Regions from separate parts of the Homo sapiens genome. Here regions 1 and 3 are each linked to region 2. Evidence: fine-mapped expression QTL. A gene starts in region 2. Each other region holds a variant in brackets. All regions are shown on one strand. Distances are between the middles of the regions.

Evidence for each region. PIP is the estimated chance that this variant, and not a neighbour inherited with it, causes the effect. A credible set is the group of variants that fine-mapping cannot tell apart.
Region 1: its variant is the best candidate, but not a certain one, in a credible set for the expression of INKA1 in whole blood (TOPMed, PIP 0.54).
Region 3: its variant is the best candidate, but not a certain one, in a credible set for the expression of INKA1 in skeletal muscle (GTEx, PIP 0.75).

Annotation. Positions count from the first base shown.
Region 1 is chr3:49,757,458-49,763,567 of GRCh38, reverse strand. All of the region lies in intron 1 of IP6K1 (inositol hexakisphosphate kinase 1), which reads left to right. It also overlaps the pseudogene COX6CP14. Among named protein-coding and RNA genes, the nearest start is that of IP6K1, 26 kb to the left of the region's middle. The variant C/T (reference allele first, on the strand shown) is at 2,481.
Region 2 is chr3:49,800,540-49,806,649 of GRCh38, reverse strand. INKA1 (inka box actin regulator 1) reads right to left here and starts at 3,389. Exons shown (of 2, transcript NM_203370.2): 1 at 3,207-3,389; 2 at 1,620-2,469. The coding sequence starts at 3,257. The coding sequence ends at 1,663. UBA7 (ubiquitin like modifier activating enzyme 7) reads left to right here. Exons shown (of 24, transcript NM_003335.3): 22 at 485-577; 23 at 653-753; 24 at 1,213-1,441. The coding sequence ends at 1,342. MIR5193 (microRNA 5193) reads left to right here and starts at 405; the gene lies at 405-513. It also overlaps a transcript of CDHR4 not described here. RefSeq lists enhancers at 1-153, 140-434 and silencers at 3,113-3,552, 3,943-3,992.
Region 3 is chr3:49,656,714-49,662,823 of GRCh38, reverse strand. It overlaps BSN (bassoon presynaptic cytomatrix protein), which reads right to left. Exons shown (of 12, transcript NM_003458.4): 5 at 4,628-6,110; 6 at 262-2,338. Among named protein-coding and RNA genes, the nearest start is that of APEH, 15 kb to the left of the region's middle. The variant C/T (reference allele first, on the strand shown) is at 2,798.

The sequences.
Region 1 (6,110 bases), 43 kb after region 2:
TTGTCATGAGGGATTCTTTCTATATATCATTGGAATTGTTTTGCTAAAAATTTTTGAAGATTTTTGTATCTGTATTCATGAAGGACATTGTTCTAAAATCTTTTTTCTTATTTATTTTGTTAAGGTTCTTTTTTAGGTTTTGTTATTAGAAATAATTGACCTTGGCCGGGCGCGGTGGCTCATACCTGTAATCCCAGCACTTTGGGAGCCCGAGGCGGGTGGATCACGAGGTCAGGAGATCGAGACCATCCTGGCTAACACGGCGAAACCCCGTCTCTACTAAAAAATACAAAAAAAATTAGCCGGGTGTGTGGCGGGCGCCTGTAGTCCCAGCTGCTGGGGAGGCTTAGGCAGGAGAATGGTGTGAACCCGGGAGGCGGAGCTTGCAGTGAGCCGAGATTGCGCCACTACACTTCAGCCTGGGTGACAGAGCGAGACTCCGTCTCAAAAAAAAAAAAAAAAAGAAATAATTGACCTTGGCCAGGCATGGTGGCTCACGCCTATAATCCCAGCACTTTGAGAGGCTGAGGCAGGTGGATCACTTGAGGCAGGTGGATCACTTGAGGTCAGGAGTTTGAGACCAGCCTGGCCAACGTGGTGAAACCCCGTCTCTACTAAAAATACACAAATTAGCTGGGCGTGGTTGTGCGCTCCTATAATCCCAGCTACTCAGGAGGCTGAGGCAGGAGAATCACTTGAACCTGGGAGACAGAGGTTGCCATGAGCTGGGATTGTGCCATGCACTCCAGCCTGGGTCACAGAGTAAGATTATGTCTGAAAAAAAAAAAGCAATAATTGACCTCGTAAAACAAGTTGGGAACTACTCTCTTTCTCTCTCTTTCTGTTTTCTGAAAAAAAATTATGTAAGATTGATATTTCTTTCTTAAAAGTTTGATAGAATTCACTAGTGAAACCTAGTCTGGAGTTTTCTTCGTGGAAAGATTTTTGATCGCAGACTCAGTTTTCTTAATAGATATAGGAGTGTTCAGATTATTATTATTATTATTATTATTATTTTGAGACAGAGTCTCGCTCTGTTGCCCAGGTTTGAGTGCAGTGGCACGATCCTGGCTCACTGTAACCTCTGCCTCCCGGGTTCAAGTGATTCTTCTGCCTCAACCTCCCAAGTAGGGCAAGTAGCTATGATTACAGGCGCCCGCCACCTTGCCAGCTAATTTTTGTATTTTTAGTAGAGACGGGGTTTCACCATGTTGGCCAGGTTGGTCTCAGTCTCCTGACCTCATGGTCCGCCTGCCTCAGCCTCCCAAAGTACCGGGATTGCAGGTGTGAGCCACCACACCCGGCCTGTTCTTTCTTAAAGATGCTTGTGGCTCTTGCCTGTAATCCCAGCACTTTGGGAGGCTGAGGTGGGTGAATCACTTGAGTACAGGAGTTTGAGACCAGTCTGGGCCACATGATGAAATCCTGTCTTTACAAAAAATACAAAAATTATCTGGGCATGGTGGTGCATACCTGTAGTTTTAGTTACTCTCAGGGCTGAGCTGGGAGGATCGTTTGAGCCCAGTAAGCAGAGGTTACAGTGAGCCAAGATCGTGCCAGGCCACTTCAGCATGGGCAACAGTGAGACCCCATCTCACCAGAAAAAATAAATGAAAGAGAGAGAGACAGGGTTTCACTCTGTCACCCAGGCTGGAGTGCAATGGTGCAATCATGGCTTACTGTAACCTCAAACTCCTGGTCTTAAGTAATCTCGGTGCCTCAGCCTCCAAACTGGGACTGCATGTACCACCATGCCTGCCTAATTTTCATTTTTTCTGTAGAGACAGAGTCTTTCTCTGTTGACCAGGGTGCTCTTGAACTCCTGGCCTCAAGTCATCCTCCTGCCTTGGTCTCCTGAAATGTTGGGTTTACAGGTGCAAGCCATCACACCTGGCCTTTTTTCTAAGTTGTTAATGAGAACCTTAGGTTATTAATTTTTTTTTTTTTTTTTTTTGAGACGGAGTCTCGCGCTGTTGCCCAGGCTGGAGTGCAGTGGCACGATCTTGGCTCACTGCAAGCTCCGCCTCCCGGGTTCACGCCATTCTCCTGCCTCAGCCTCTCAAGTAGCTGGGACTACAGGTGCCTGCCATTGCGCCCGGCTAATTTTTTGTATTTTTAGTAGAGATGGGGTTTCACCATGGTCTTGATCTCCTGACCTCGTGATCCGCCCGCCTCGGCCTCCCAAAGTGCTGGGATTACAGGAGTGAGCCACCACGCCCGGCCAGGTCATTAACTTTATAGGTTTTTTCTTTTGGAGATGGAGTTTCACTCTGTCGCCAGGCTGGAGTGCAGTGGCACGATCTCCGCTCACTGCACCCTCCACCTCCCGGGTTCAAGTGATTCTCCTGCCTCGGCCTCCCGAGTAGCTGGGACTACAGGCGCCCACCACCATGCCCAGCTAATTTTTTGTATTTTTAGTAGAGACAGGGTTTCACCGTGTTGGCCAGGATGGTCTCGATCTCTTGACCTCGTGATCCATT[C/T]GCCTCGGCCTCCCAAAGTGCTGGGATTACAGGTGTGAGCCACCACGTCCGGCCAGTTTTACAGGTTTTTTGCAATACTTTTAGACTTTAAAACGTTAGCATTGCTTTAGCTGAATCAGTATAGCATATATTTGAAAAGTGTTTTTTCATATATTACCTCACTCTGAGAAGTAGATAAGTAATCTCAAATCTGTTGACAGGGAAAATAGGTGAATTGGCACATTGAAGGGTACATAATTTGTTAATTGTGGCATTGATTTTTTCACATGGTTTCTGACTCCCAGAATCCTGAGAGCTCTGCATGTTCAGGCTGTTTAATTCCTGATGTCACATGAGAGTCAGGAAAGGAAGTTGAGGGAGTGGAGAAATTTGGAGAAATTTGGAAACTGCTCTTAAGGAATGATGTATCTTTGGAACCACCTCTCCGCTTTTTGCTTTTCACTTTTTTTTTTTTTTTTTTTTTTGAGACGAAGTCTCACTCTGTTGCCCAGGCTGGAGTGCAGTGGCACTATCTCGGCTCACTGCAACCTCTGCCTCCCGGGTTCAAGTGATTCTCCTGCCTCAGCCTCACGAGTAGCTGGGATTACAGGTGCCTGCCACCATGCCCGACTAATTTTTGTATTTTTAGTAAAGACGGGGTTTCACCGTGTTGGCCAGACTGTTCTTGAACTCCTGACCTCAAGTGATCTGCCCACCTCGGCCTCCCAAAGTGTTGGAATTACAGGCTTGAGCCACTGCGTCCAGCCTCCACCTGTCTGCTTTTCTAAGTTGGGAAGTTGTTGATGGGTTTGCGTAGGTGAAGGTTAGTCCCCATCTCTCTGAAACTATGGGTTGTCTATGAGGTGGACAGAAGTGCTTTTCTAATATTTAAAGTACTTAACAGTAATAATTAGGCTGGGCATGGTGGTTCAGGCCTATAATTGCAGCACTTTGGGAGGCCAAGGCAGGAGGATCACTTGAAGCTGGGAGATGGAGACCAGCGTGGGCAATAAAGTGAGACCTCATCTCTACAAAAAAAAGGAAGGGAAAATAGCTGGGTGGCCTGTAGTCCCAGCCACTCAGGAAGCTGAGGTGGGAAGGATCGCCTGAGCCCAAGAATTCAAGTTGTAGTAACCCGTGATCGTGCCACTGCATTCCATCCTGGGTGACAGAGTGAGACCCTGTCTCGAAAGAAAGAAAAAACAATAATTCTGGTATTTCACTAGAGGGTTGGAAGACAGCTGGAATCTAATCTGCTTGAAGCAGTCAAACTTGATGGCATTTTGTGAGGCATTATGCTGGTTGTTCACCCCTTGTTATAGGTTTTCTTCACGTATTTACTTCACATAGTCTACTAATTTCCATGTTGCTGATCTGCTTCTGGGTAACCTTTAATAAAGTCGTTTTTTGTTGTTGTTGTTGTTGTTTTGTCCACCTAGTCTAAGACTCTAATAAAATCTTTATCTACATGATGGATGTTCAAATAGATGGTCATTATGTTGCCTCCAGGATGTGTGGTGTCTGAAAGAGGGAGTTTCTGTAGAGTTTGTGCCCTGAAATCTCCTTACACTGTTTTCTAAATGTCTAACTATATAAGAAATATGCTGTTTGGCCCTTGAGATGGAGGTCCAATAGGAACACAGGATGCTAGGAACTTGGTCCTTGGAGGAGAGAACTGGAGCTGGTCCCTGGCCATATGTGGGAGTAACAGCACATTATCTCAAAAGAATAAAACTCATTGGAGTTGTATTTTGTGGTGGACGTTTTGCCTTAGTCTCTAACTGCAGCTGAATACATCTGTGTCTGTGTCTGAAGAATTTGATCTTTGACTATATTTTCAGATAATCTTCAGAGTAGTATAAGCATCAAGGCATTTAAATGATTTCACCCCCAAAGGAAGAGTCCTCCAGATTTTAGCCATATCTGATTTTTAGTGCCTCTCAGAATTCAGTGATTTAAAACTGCTTTGGAGTCCTAACAGTTTTGTGGTGTCATTGAGATACCATAGAAAGATAGAAGGTATTTTTTTTTTAATTGTTTATTTATCAAGATAAACTATTTGCTAGCCCACATATTCATGTTTCATAGTTCAGGAACACAGGTTAGTGACAAAACTAATAGGAAATTCAACCCAAAGAAACTGTTGGGTATTTTTTTTTTTTGAGACAGAGTCTCGCTCTGTCATCCAGGCTGGATCTTGGCTCACTGTAACCTCCGCCTCCTGGGTTCAAGCGATTCTCCTGTCTCAGCCTCCCAGAGTAGCTGGGATTACAGACATGCGCCACCACACCTGCTATATTTGTATTTTTAGTAGAGATGAGGTTTCACCATGTTGGTCAGACTGATCTCAAACTCCTGACCTCAGGTGATCTGCCTGCCTCACCTCCCAAAGTGTTGGGATTACAGGCATGAGCCATTACGCCTGGCCAAAGAAACTCCTTATATTCCAAAATTACTTTGCACTCTGAAAGATACTAGCTTTTCTCATCTAAAATTCTTTCATGAAGTCATAATTTCTGTAGAAATCTGGGTATGCCTTCTTTCTTGGTTCAGCCACAGCAAATTTACAGAGAACTACGGCTCCCAGGGATACAACGAATGCTCCACCAATATGAAACTGCAGACGTGCTGTGGTAGTTACTGTCCTTGATAGGTATGTCAGCCTCATTACCAGTGTTCTTCCTGGCTGATGGAGAAGTGGATGGCCAGCAGCTATTTCATAGTTGTATAATTCCTTACTCTGGAGAGTTTTCTTGTTTAAAGCTAGTAACCTTTTTTTTTTTTTTTTTTTTTTGAGATGGAGTCTTGTTCTGTCACCCCAGGCTGGAGTGTAGTGGTGCGATCTCAGCTCACTGCAACCTCCGCCTCCCAGGCTCAAGCGATTCTCCTGCTTCAGCCTGTCGAGTAGCTGGGACTGACTACAGGCGCCCGCCACCATGCCTGGCTAATTTTTTTGTACTTTTAGTAGAGACGGGGTTTCACTGTATTAGCCAGGATGGTCTTGATCTCCTGACCTCGTGATCCACCTGCCTCGGCCTCCCAAAGTGCTGGGATTGCAGGCGTAAGCCACTGCGCCTGGCCACTAGTAACCATTTTTGATAGGGGGTCCTAAATAAAGCCCCCAGATAATCTAAAAAGGTCAATGCTGTGACCAGAGCTTTGGCTTCACCTTTCCTAGATGTATGAAATTTTATTGCCATGTTTTCCCTTTTTTAATAATAGGACACATGTGAATATTGCTAATATAAGGTAGTAGATTTGTACCTAAGATGAACTCCATGTATAAAACCAGTGTTATAGATAATTGAAATTAGCGTGAGTGACAAGAGCTTTTATTTGTGTTCTGAAATGGAGAGAGAGCAGTTTTTTTATTTTTTATTTTTATTTTTGAGACAGGGACTCACTTTGTTACCCAGGCTGGAGTGTAGTGGCGCAATCTTGGCTCACTGCAACCTCCGCCTTCCAGGCTCAAGCAATCCTCCTGTCTCAGCCCCTCAAGTAGCTGGGACTATAGGCATGAGCCACCAAGCCTGGCTAATTTTTTTTTTGTAGAGACAGTATTTTGCCATGTTGCCCAGGCTGGTCTCAAACTCCTGAGCTCAGGCGATCCACACATCTCAGCCTCCCAAAGTGCTAAGATTACAGGTGTGA
Region 2 (6,110 bases):
CATTGTATCCCTGCTGGGGTCTCTGGGACAGTGGGGCCCTGGTGGTCACTGTGCCCTTTGCCCCTGTGTCCCAATGAGTAGCCCAAGGCACTGGCAGTACATACAAGATTGGGGGACAGGATGTGCCCCCCAGCTCCCAGCCTTGTCTTTGAGGAACAAGCAGCTTTATCAGAGGCTGCAGGGGCCCTGCTCTGGGTTTCCTCAGGAAGCACCACCCCCTCATCCCCCACTCTCACAACTGGCCCATGTGATGGATCGTCTGTTTCCCTGTGCGGGCCCCATAGCCCCATTTCCTGTGCTGGCCCCGGCCTGGACGGGGAGGGGGCTGAGACTCTGGGCCCAGATCCCACCTCCCCCCCACCCCCCACCCCCTGGCTCCTGTTTCCTGCTAGTCCAGCTCTTCCCCTAGGAAAGGCTGCTGGTAACTGGGATGGGGGTTGGGGGGAGGTAAGAAGTCTCTGACTCCTCCTCTACCTCATCCCAGTTCCATCACCTGAAGTGGACCTCTTGGGACCGTCTGAAGGTACCAGCTGGGCAGCCTGAGAGGACCCTGGAGTCGCTGCTGGCTCATCTTCAGGTGTGCCCTGTTGCTACCCCAACCCCCAGGCTCAGCCCAGCCCGGCCCAGCTGGTGTCTGACCTTTCTCCTCTAGGAGCAGCACGGGTTGAGGGTGAGGATCCTGCTGCACGGCTCAGCCCTGCTCTATGCGGCCGGATGGTCACCTGAAAAGCAGGCCCAGCACCTGCCCCTCAGGTGAGCCCACTTGGGGCTTTAGACAGGCCCCACCAGTCCCTGGAGGCTGGGGCTAGGGACCACACTGCCTTTTGTCTTCCCAGCCCCATTCTGGGCCCCTCACACCTTCCCAAGCATTCTTTCCCCAAATGGAGCCAGCAAACAGGCTGGAGGTGGGGTGAGGGCCGAGAGCCTGAGGAGGAGTCTTCAGGAGCTGCCTATTTGGCCAGCCCCATGGGCTCCCCACATGCTGCACAGCCCCCCTTTCACAGCCCACTCCCAAGGGACCCATAGCTTCCTGCCTCCTGCTTGCCTCATCAGCTGCTCCTAAAATAGTTTCAGATGTTTCCTGTCTTGAGCAGCTCCTGCTCCTGGCTTGGGCTCCTGACGGCCTGCCAGCACCCTCTCTAGTCCATGCCAGGCTGCCTTCTGCTTGCCATGGCTCACCTCTCCAATCTCCCCTAAACCCACCCCTACCAGGGTGACAGAACTGGTTCAGCAGCTGACAGGCCAGGCACCTGCTCCTGGGCAGCGGGTGTTGGTGCTAGAGCTGAGCTGTGAGGGTGACGACGAGGACACTGCCTTCCCACCTCTGCACTATGAGCTGTGACAAGGCAGCCACCCTGTCACCTAGCTCAATGGAGCCCCGGATCCCAAGCCCTGCATTGTAAGCCCACAGTAGGCACTCAATAAATGCTTGTTAAAGGAAGGCATTGCAGAGAGGATGGACGATAGAAAACAGTGCACTAATGCACACGGGTGTGACATGGGCATGACAGGGACCTTCACACAGAGAAAAAAAGCTCTTCAGAAGATTTGTCTCCCTGGGCAGTGCCTCACAGGGCTGGGGCTGCCTCTTAGTGCCTCAGGGGTATGGAGCCAGGACAGTCTAGAAAAAAGGCTTTTATTGTCCCAGGCTGGAGGGCAGGGTCAGAGGTAGCTGACATCATTGCAGATGATGGGCTGGCGGCTACGACAGCTCATGAGAGCTGCAAAGCGTGAGACATCCGCAGGCAGTTCAGGTTCTGGGCGAGGTGGGCATGACAGCCGCTTTCCTGCCATAGCTGTCCGCCGAGCCCTGGCCAGCCGGCGCCGAAGCTGCTCAGAGAGGCCAAGCAGGAACTGAGGGGGCCGAGCACGGGCACGGTGCCCACCTCCGTCACCCCCTTCACTCCCTGTCTCAGGCAGCTCCATCCAGTTGTGCACCAAGTCAGCAAAGCAATTGTCCCCTAGTACCAGGGGCTGGCGACTGCGACCCCTGTTCAGTAGGGCTGCTGTCCAGTCCTCTGCTTCCAGTCCCTGCCAGTGCTCCAGGCAGGCGTCTGGGGTGGACTTGGGCCGTGGATGGTGGACAGGTGGTACACTGGCTACAGGGGCCCTGCTGGGCATGGGGAGGCCACTGACTGAGAGGCACTGCCTACGAAGGGGCTGTGCTGAGGGTGCTGGGCGCTGGGATACAGGCAGTTCTTCCTCTCGCCATGTGCTGCCTGACACCTCCGAGAAGCCAGAGTCCCAGTCCAGGGCATGCTCCCTGGGGCCTCCCAAGGCTGCATCCCTGTCTTCTGTCACCACTGCTTCCTCCTCCTCCTCTTCCTCCTCCTCCACACAGCAGACTGAGTCCTCTTCCAAGGCACCCGAGGCCCTAAGCTGGTGGCTGGGCTGCACATCTGGGCCAGTTTGGGAGGTTGGCTGCAGGGGACCAGGCATTGAGGGTGAGCCTGTGTCCCGACCACACAACTGAGGGGAAGAGAGGGCAGAAGTCGGAGAGGTATCACTTGTCACCAGGCCAGCCCAGAGAACAGAGGGTCCAGGAAGGTTAGATAGGCCTGCTGGCCTGGGCAGCAGGGTGTTAGTGAGCACAGGGCAGGCATAGGGGTGCTGGCACTCGAAGCTGGTGTGGTTCTCATCCACCGACCTGGTGGCAGTCTGGCAGGCTGCAGCATGCAGGGCCGGGCAAGTCGGCACCCGCCACCAGGGCGGGCGGGCAGGCAGGCAGGGTTGCGGGCCTGAACGGGGAAGTAGGTCCTGCCCAGGACTGGAGGGGCATCCCGTGCCTATTGGGGGATTCAGCTCCCAAAGCCCAAAGCGTCTTTCACAGAAAGAGCGCTTGCTAGGTGAGGGGTAGAGAAGGGAGGCATAGGCCAGCCTGAAGTAGGGGGCGTTCACAGCAGCGCCAGCACCTCGTTAGTCCCTTGCCGCCCCATGCCCCGCCCCCAAAGAAGTCCCCCTTCCACTCTCTCCTCCCGCGCCGTTCCAGCAGCACGGCCAGCTGGATGCTGTTATCTGATGCTCAGCTCAGTTCCCAACCGTCCGAAACCCGACGCGGGCCATCTGAGCCATATGCGCCACGCCGCCCCCACCCCGCCTCGGACCGGCACGCTGGAGCCACCCCGCACCCGTCTGTTGTTCCGGCCGGGCGGCAGCCTGGCATCCCGCACGCGTCCTCACTAACCACACCCGCTCCCGAGCCTCACCAGTTCCCAGCGGAGCTGGCTAAGGAAGCTGTCAAGCCGAGCGCTGTGCATGTCCATGCCAGGGCCCCCACCGAACCTACTAGCTCCTCTTGGAACCCCGGCGGAGCCGCGCGGAGAGGGCTGGGAGGGCCGGCCAGCGGCGCCCTCAGCCTCCGCCTGCCTGCGCGACTCCTCGCTCTCCGTAGCTCCCGCCGCCGCCGCCCCGACATCTGGCAGCCGCGCCCCGCCCCGGCCCCGCGGCCAAAGGGGGCGGGGCTAAAGCCCGGCGTCCCTCCCGACTCCGCCGCGGTTCTGGGTGGGAAGGGCGGGGTCATAACTGGAAGCCGGACGGGGCCGGTACGGGGACCCCCCGAGCCCCCAGACTGTTGAGTGGACCCTGCGTTTGCTGCGTGACGCAGGACAGGTCGCCTCCGTGCGGGGGCCTCATCCTCCCCGTTTGTTCAATGGTGAAATAGCGGTCCCTCTCACGGGGCGCCGTGCTGCGTCCGCACATAGGCAGAGCACCCCGGATGGTCGGACCCAGAGAGGTTGTGGACCCTCGGGGCCTGACCCACGGGACCCATTCGTGAGGCTGGCCTTGGCACTCCCTGAACGGGATGGAAGTGGGGTTCAGCCCGTCTGAGGACTCAAGAGAGGGCGGGACTTTGTGGCAGCGCACCGGCGGGGCCTCAGCCGCGTCCCAACCGAGCTAGACGGGACTGCCCTCTAGTGGGGAGTGCTTGGCTAGTCGCGAGTCCAGCGGCGACGCGCGACCGTCGGCATTCCCTTTGCCGGTACCAGGTGCAGACTGAGGGTCGGTGCTGAGGCTGCTCTATCAACACAGGCTAGGCTCAAGGGTAGTGTAGCTGCAGACAGACTGGACATACCAGCAACAGGAAAATACCAGGGAATGAGGGCCGTGGGCTAGCTTGGGGAAAGTCAGTCTCACAGGAGGTGACATCAAGATGCAATCAAGAAGAGGGGCATTCTGGCCGGGCGCGGTGGCTCACGCCTGTAATCCCAGCAGTTTGGGAGGCCGAGGCGGGCGGATCACGAGGTCAGGAGATCGAGACCATCCTGGCTAACATGGTGAAACCCCGTCTCTACTAAAAATACAAAAAAAATTAGCCGGGCGTGGTGGCGGGCGCCTGTAGTCCCAGCTACTCCTGAGGCTGAGGCAGGAGAATGGCGTGAACCCGGGAGGCGGAGCTTGCAGTGAGCGGAGATCGCGCCACTGCACTCCAGCCTGGGCGACAGAGTGAGACTCCGTCTCAAAAAAAAAAGAAAGGAAGAAGAAGCAGGAGGAGGAGAAGGAGAAGAAGGAGAAGGAGAAGAAGGAGAAGAAGAACATTCTAGGCAGAAGGAGCAGCCAGGGAAGAGACCCCGACGGACAGGAGCTGGACAGGGCCAAACATAAAGAAGGCCCAGGTGTCTGTGATTGGTGGTGGTGGCAGGAGGGAAAAGGTCAGCAAAACCAGGCTCTAACGGCCTTAGAGCAGAATGTGGGTTTTGTTCTTGGTGTGATGAGGAGCAATGGGGGCCTTTGAGCAGGAATGACCTGGGCTAGCCCTTGTTTAGATAATCCCAGCTGCTTTCAGAAAAGGATTCTGCAATAAGAGTGGAAGTCCCTGCCCTCATCCAGGCAACGAAGGGGAGGGCCTAGGCCTGGGCAGGGCAGGTGCACTGAAGGGGGTCACTTTGGGGTATGTTTTGGAACTAAAATCAAGTCTTGCTGATGCATGGATGTGGGCAGGAAAAGAGGCATCAAGCATGACTCCTACATTTCTGGCATTAACAGCTGGTTGGATGAAATTGCCATAAACTGATCTGGGAAAGACTGGAGAAGAGTGGGTTTGGAGAGGAAAATCCAATGATCATTTATGGACACGTAACCCTTGAGATGCCTGTTAGACATCCAAGAGGAGTTGCAGAGTCAGCTGCTAGGTGTATGACTCTGGACTTCAGGAGAGAGATCAGCACTGGAGCCTTGGATCTGGGAGGCATAGTGAGTGAATGGATGGTATGTAAGGCCATAGGCCTGGATAAGGTGGGGTGGGAGGAAATCAGTGTAGTCAGAGGGAGACAGCAATCGGGACTGTGCCCTGGGACATTCCATGAGGTGGAGGTAGGGGAGATATGAAGCAGAGCTATCAAAGAAGCTGAGCAGGAACAGCCAGGAGAAATCTGAGAATGTGGGGACTCAGGACCCAAGGGGAGCAAGCATTGAATGCTGCCTAGGCAGTGAGGGTGAAGAACAAACCACTGGATTCGGCAGTGCATAGGTCACTGGGAACCCTGACAAGGGCAGTTTTGTGTAGAGAGGGACAAGCCTGATTAGAGTGTGTGGAGAAGAGAGTGAGGACTGAAGAACTGGAGATGGCAAATAAAGACAACCGTTTTTGTTTTTTTTTTTGAGACAGGGCCTCACTCTGTCACCCAGGCTGGAGTGCAGTGGCATGATCTTGGCTCACTGCAGCCTCCATCTCTGGGGCTCAAGTGACCCTCCTATCTCAGCCTCTCAAGTAACTGGGACTACAGGCATGTGCCACCACACTCAGCTAATTTTTTTTTTTTTTTTTTTTGTAGAGACAGGGTTTCACCATGTTGTCCAGGCTGGTCTCGAACTCCTGATCTCAAACGATCCTCCTGCCTCAGCCTCCCATACAGGCATAAGCCACCGTGCCTGGCCAGAAAACTTAAAAAAACTGACATATAAATACAATAAATAGACAGATCTCAAAGTTACAGCCCAGTAAATGTTAAAATCTGTAGACACTTGTGCAGCTGCCACCCAGATATAGAACATCCTCAGCAACTCCTGGATGCCACCTGGTGCCCTATCCAACTGATATTCCCAACGGTAACCAGTATTTGTATTTCTATCATAAAGGATTCCTTTTGCTTGTTGGATGTAGACAACTTTTT
Region 3 (6,110 bases), 140 kb after region 2:
AGGCCTAGCTGAAGCCATGCAAAGAAACCAAGAGAGTGGGTGCCACAGCCACAAGCAGATCAGCAGGCCCCCAGCCCACCCTCCCGCAACCACGGACCAGGGCACAGATGGAGCAGGCAAGGGCAGCCTGCCTGCAGCAGGGCCCACCAGATGAGGCGCCAGACCAGACCCTGCTGGGACATCTTAGGGCCCAGGGCCCCACAGGTAGGCAGGCCCCCCAGCTGCTGAGTATCCGCAGAAATCACCCCTGGCTGCCATTACCTTCGCTGTCGGAAACCACGCAATGGGAATCATCCAGGATGTAGCCCTCCTCACGCTTATATGCGTGGGCCCGAGGTCCGTCCTTGACATGTTCCTGGACATCAGGCATGGAGTGGCTGGAGCAGAACTGTGGGCAGGTATCCCCGCCGGGAGGGAGGGGCCCTCCGGCAGGGCGGGGCCTCCCCAAAGGACTGACGGGGCTCTCCTCTTCAGAGGCCTGGCTCCGCATGGGGGGTCGTACCCGGCTGTGGGCCATACTTAGGGATGAGGGCTTGGGGCCCGCTTTTTGAAGTCGCTCCACAGCCTCCCGTTCCCTTTCGTACCCCTTGCCCCAGCCACTGAAGTCGTGGCTGGACAGCTTCTCCCCACTGTATGCAGAAGGTGCCCGGGACCGGCTGCTCCCGCCATAAATGCGGTCGTCCTCCACTGCGTCCCGGCTGGACATCCCATAGTATTTTTGCTGCTCATACACGTTCTTCTTGAGCCCATAGGTGATTTCATCCTGGAACTTCCTGCCCCGAGAGACCAGGCTGCTGCTGACTGCAGGTGGGGGGTAGGACGCCAGGTCTGACTCTACGTCTTTGGCCTCTTCAATAGGCGAGAACTTGGATATCTTTTGCTCCATGCCCTGCTTCCGGTGCTTGCTGCGCTTTGAGGAGATGGCAGCTGGAGCCAGGCTCTTGGAGGGATGCTTGGGCCCCATGGGCCCTGGACCATACTTCTCTACTCGAGCCCCATGCCTGTAGTCACTGTCACCATAGTAGTGGGTACTGGCTGGTCGACCATTGCTCTCCATGCTCCGGAGGTGGCCACCCTTCCCGCGGGGATCGTATGAGTCCTCCTCAGATTCCTCTTCTCCTCTGGCATAGCAGCAGGGCAGTGTGGGCCCGTCAAGGACACCTGGTTCTCCAGGCTCCTTCCCTGGACGCCCACTGCTGCCTGGCCCCAGGGGCTCCAGCCGTTGGCTATCAGGAGCAGTAGAGGTGCTGTCCTTGGTCAGTTCACTGATGTCATCAATCATTACGTAGTTTCGAGGAACGTTCTGCTCCAGACTGGTATAGTGTGAGTCAGAGGGGTAGGTGGGGGCTGGGCTCTGGCTCACACTGCCACGGTCACCAGCCCGGGGCACCTCAGGGACCTTGCCCTGCTCATAGCCGCTGCTCACTGCTGGGCCACTGTAGCTGGTTTCAGATGGGGCTGAAGACATGGGCACAACGGGGCTGGCGATCACCTCATAGTTGGTGGGCACCTTCTGCTCCAAGTCGGCTAGCGATGTCTGGCGTGGCTTCTGCAGTGGGGCACGGCTATCAGCGGGGACTGGAAAAAGGGTGCTCTGTGTGGTTGGCATGGGTGTTTGGCCTGCATAGTGGCCTGTGGGGCGGAAAGCCTGCTGGTTTGGCAGGCCAGGCTCAGCTGGGTAACTGGCACCAGGAGGAAAGGCAGGAGCTGGGTACGTGCTGGGGCCAGGGTAGGTGGGGGCCTGGTGGGCTGGGAATCCGTTCTGAGTTGGCCCACCACTGCCTGCAGAATACTGTGGGGCTGGAGGCTGGAAGCGGGGCTGCTGGAAGGCAGTGGGACCAGAGGGGGTGGCAGGAGCAGCGGCAGTGGCAGGGAAGTCCACAAACTGGCCAGCGGGAGTGGTGCAGCCCTGGAGCCGCAGCTGGTTGAGCTCACTGTCCGATAGGTAGTCACGATGCTCGCCAAGACCACGCAAGGGTGGGTAGTCACGGCCACCCCGGTCTTTGGCCAAAGACTCTTTGCGTTGTGTGATACCCAACTCCAGGTACTTGAGCTTGGCGTCAATCTCCTTCTCCTCCTCATCCAGCTCTGCCTGCTTCTTGCGCAGTTTGGTGGACTCATGCTCCACCAGCCGCAGGTCCCGGTCCAGCTCCCGGAGCAGGCTGGCCTTGGTAGCAGGGACAGTGGTGGGCCCCGTCAGCCCTCGCTGCAGCAGGCTGGCTGCATACAGCTGTGGGGAGGCCTGGCCAGCCAGGGGAAGGTGAGCCTCCTCTGGAGGGGGGCTGGGCAGTGTCCGCTTCACCTTGCGGACCAGGCTGTTGGGTGGCAACGCCGACACCTGAGACAGAGGGAAGGGTGGGCAGCACTGAGACCCAAGGTGTGGTGACTTGATGGGGTGTGGGGTGGCAGAACCCAGGCCTGGGCTGGGGAAGGAGCTGGGTTCCATCTTGCTGGTGCCCTGATTTACCAGGCAGCCTGGAGGCCTACCCTGCCCACCCATAGGCCTTGGTTTCTTTGCCATAGAGGGAAGATCTGTGATTATTTTACAGCCCTTCTCTTTCCCAGAGCTTTGGGAAGCAGGAGGGTACGGGCAGATTCCCTTCATGCCAATGTCCTGTACTGGCCCAGCACATGGCTTTGAGAACCCCTGCACATCTCCAATGGGCCTGCCACCCTCTGCCTCACATTGAGGTAAGAAGAGTACAGCTGTGGCTCTGGGTTTGGGGCCTAGCAGCTGACAGGGGTTGAGATCAGTGGAGTATGAACAGGAGGCATGGAGTGGAGAGGGTCCTGGGCC[C/T]GCCAGGCTCCCTAGAGGATCATGGGAAGGGACACATGTAGATTGTATGCCAATCGTGGCAGGCTCTGAGTCATTCTGCATCCTGCCCTAGTCCTCTCTAAAGTGGAAGGCTCCTCAGCTGCCTGCCCACCCTCTTCCTCTAGTGCCCTGCACTGCCCTCTGCCAAACCCTCTGGGCTGTGCTCTTGGCCTGGTCCCCAGCTCCCTCCATGTCCCTCGGTCAACCTGCTGTTCTCTGGAGCCACCAGTGCACCCGTAAGTCCTATCCAGCCCTACCTCCAGCAGCATGGCTTCCTGGTCAAGGTTCCCTAACAGTGCCTACCATGGGGTCCTCCTTGCCTACCCTAGACACTCTGCATTGCCTGAAGGTCCACATTGCCTGGTAGTTCACTCTGTCTTCTCCCTTTTTCTCTCGCTCCTAGCCTTCCCAGAATGCCCCATGCCCTTGGGTTTCATGGACCACCCAAATTCCAATATATACTGGGAAGTGACTCCTATAGGATTCTTACTTTTTACCTTGCCAAGTAACTACCTAAAAACCTCCCACCTACATCCACCATATGTCATAATAAAAATTATAGTGTGCCCTCAAAATTTCAGGGTGGGCCTTTTATGGAATAAATTTAGCCTTTTGAACCCCTCACTCTGTTGTCTCTTTTCTTATTTTGGCCACGCATCATGAGTGCCTATCATGGCCTGGTCTCACATGGCCAGCCCATGGGACCTCTGTGCCTGCAGCCAGGACCACCCTGCCTCTCTGACCTGCCCTCCCTGCCAGCCTAGAGTCCTGATCCCACCCACACCCCTATATGGCCTGCATACACCAAGACTTCACTACCCAAGATTATCACCTCCACAAACCCCATTCTAAGGCTCCACTTTTCTCGTCTCTGTGTCACACCCTGAAAATGGGCAAATCTACCTTACGATGCCTCTGGCTCCTGCCTCCTCTGCCAGGTCTCTTCCTTCAGCCCACCCTCCCACATTCTGCCCAGGAAACTTTCCAAAACATCTGCTTTGTCCCATCTCACATGCCTAAAACCTCCAGAGGCTTCCAGGGTCTTTAGGAAAAGCCCATCCTCCTCAGCCTGGCACTCAGTTGTTGGCATTAGGCCCTCACAACCCTCTATTCTCACTTTGGCTGCAGCCCACAGCCAAGCCACTTCTCACAGTCCCCATCCATCACTGGCAAATAAAGCCACAACCAAGGGTAAGCTTATGCTTCTGAATCCCCTATCTAGGGGAGCAGACAGATGTGTAAACAGATTTACCGAGGGCCAGGTAGGGGCAGAGAACACCCTGGGGCAGAGAGCACACTGCAGCCCGCTGGGATGGGCCTCTAGTGCTAGGCCATAGGGGTGTGGGCTTCCTGTGTGGCAATGGAAACCAGGCCAGGACTGAGAGGACGAGAGCAGCCGCGCCAGGTTCATATGACTGATTTTCTTAGGAAACACCCATAGATTAAGTTTGGAGTGGAAGGGGTCCAGACTAGAAGTGAGAGCTGAAGAGGCCTAAAGGGGGAGGTAGCAGGGGCTGGACCAGGTGTGGGTGGTGAAGGGACAGTGCTGGGAGGAGGCTGAAGCTTCTAGTAGGGTATGTGGCTGGAAGGCTGTGGGGGCCCATGTGTGTGTCTGTATCTGCCAGGCTGTCTGCCGGGCTGCAGGCTCTTTCAGATGTGCACCAGGGAGCATCTGCTCATTGACTCTTTCCCCTGGGCCTCTGGGGCCAGAGATGCCTCTACTCCCACCCCAGAAGAAGCCCCTCCCTGTGGGGGCCCCTCGGGCTAGGCAGAGACCCCTGTCCCACCCTGGAACAGCCCCTGTTCCCATACCTGGCTACCCAGTCCCCCCTGGTGCTGGTAGAGGGAGAATCTCTCTTTGGCAGACTCTTCGGCGGTGGGGCTGAGGGGCTTAGGGTCAGACAGGGACCGCTGCAGGGTCTTCATGGGGCGAGGCAGCGTCTGCTGGCGGAGAGCGCTGTCAGCCGTGAAGTGCTTCTGGGGACTCACGTGAGCTTTGTTCAGCCTCTCACTGGAAGCAAAGGAGGTGTCCAGGAGCCGGTGAGGGGACAGGGGTGAGACTGGTGAGTAGAGGACCTGAGGGGACTTGGGAGGCTGGCGGCTCACAAGCTGTGAGAGAGACTCCGGAGGCAGGTGGGCCTGGTACCCAATCTCCAGGGGATCTGGCTTCTTTTTTTCAAATCTGCCCAGAGGCCCTGGGGTGACGATCTGGATGCCAGGCAGGTAGGGGCTGATGGCAGTTGGCCCTACAAGCTGCGGCCCGGCTACACCCTGGGCCTGCCCATCTGGCTCCGTCTGGCAGGCCAGGCTCTCCCCACGCCCAGTCTTCTCTGGCGCCGATATGTACCTGACGATCTCCACCTTGGGATCGGTGGCAGCTGTGATGTGGATGGCTGGAGAGACCCTGGGCAGCTGGTCAGGCTCCGTCTGCACGGAGCAGTCACTGATGGTCTGGATGCCCACGCTGCTCATGGCCCTCACAGTGGCAGCAGCACTGGATGATGAGGCAGTGGCATCGTGCTTGCTGTCAGAGCCTGAGTCTGAGTGGCGGGGAAGACGAGACCTGCGGCGGCGCACTGGCTGCTCCCACTCAGCACTGTCTTCGTCGTCCGTCTGCACACTGCAGTCAGCACTCCGCCGTGCCCGGCGTCGCCGACTCAAGAGGTAGCGGCTCTCCCCATCCTCATCGTCTGTCTGCACGCTGCTGTCGGCAATCCTCCTGACCACACAGGGCTCAGTCCCAGACTCTAGCTCACAGGCATCCCGCAGGCGTGGCATGGAGTGCCGCTTCTTGATGCCACTACGGCTGGCCTCCCACTGCTCCTCCGTTTGCAGTGACATGTCTGAGGCAGAGCTGGGGAGACCCCGGTGCAGCACAGGCTCACGAGGCTGCCCAAGTCCTTCAGGCCCTGCCATGGCAATGAAGGCTGCATGTGTAAGGGGGGGCCAATACTGGCCATTCTGGGCCAACTCAGCAGCCGCTAGGGGAGGCCCTCGGCCAGGTGCCTCACAGGCTGCAGGAAAGGGAGCCTTCTGCCGCTGCTTCTGCTCCTCTAGCTGCTGCTGCAGCTGCTGCTGCAGCTGCTGGATCTGCTCCAGCTGCAGACGCTGCTGCGCTAGCTGTTCCCGCTGCAGTGCAAATTGAGCCTGGCGTTCCTCTTGCTGCTGCTGCAGCACATGGTGCTTGATGGTCTGCAGCTCCTGCAACTCCCGCTGCACCAGCAGCTGCTCCTCCTCACGGTGCCTCTGCAGCTCCACACGTTCCCGCTCTAGCTCCTCTTGCAGCCGAAGTTGT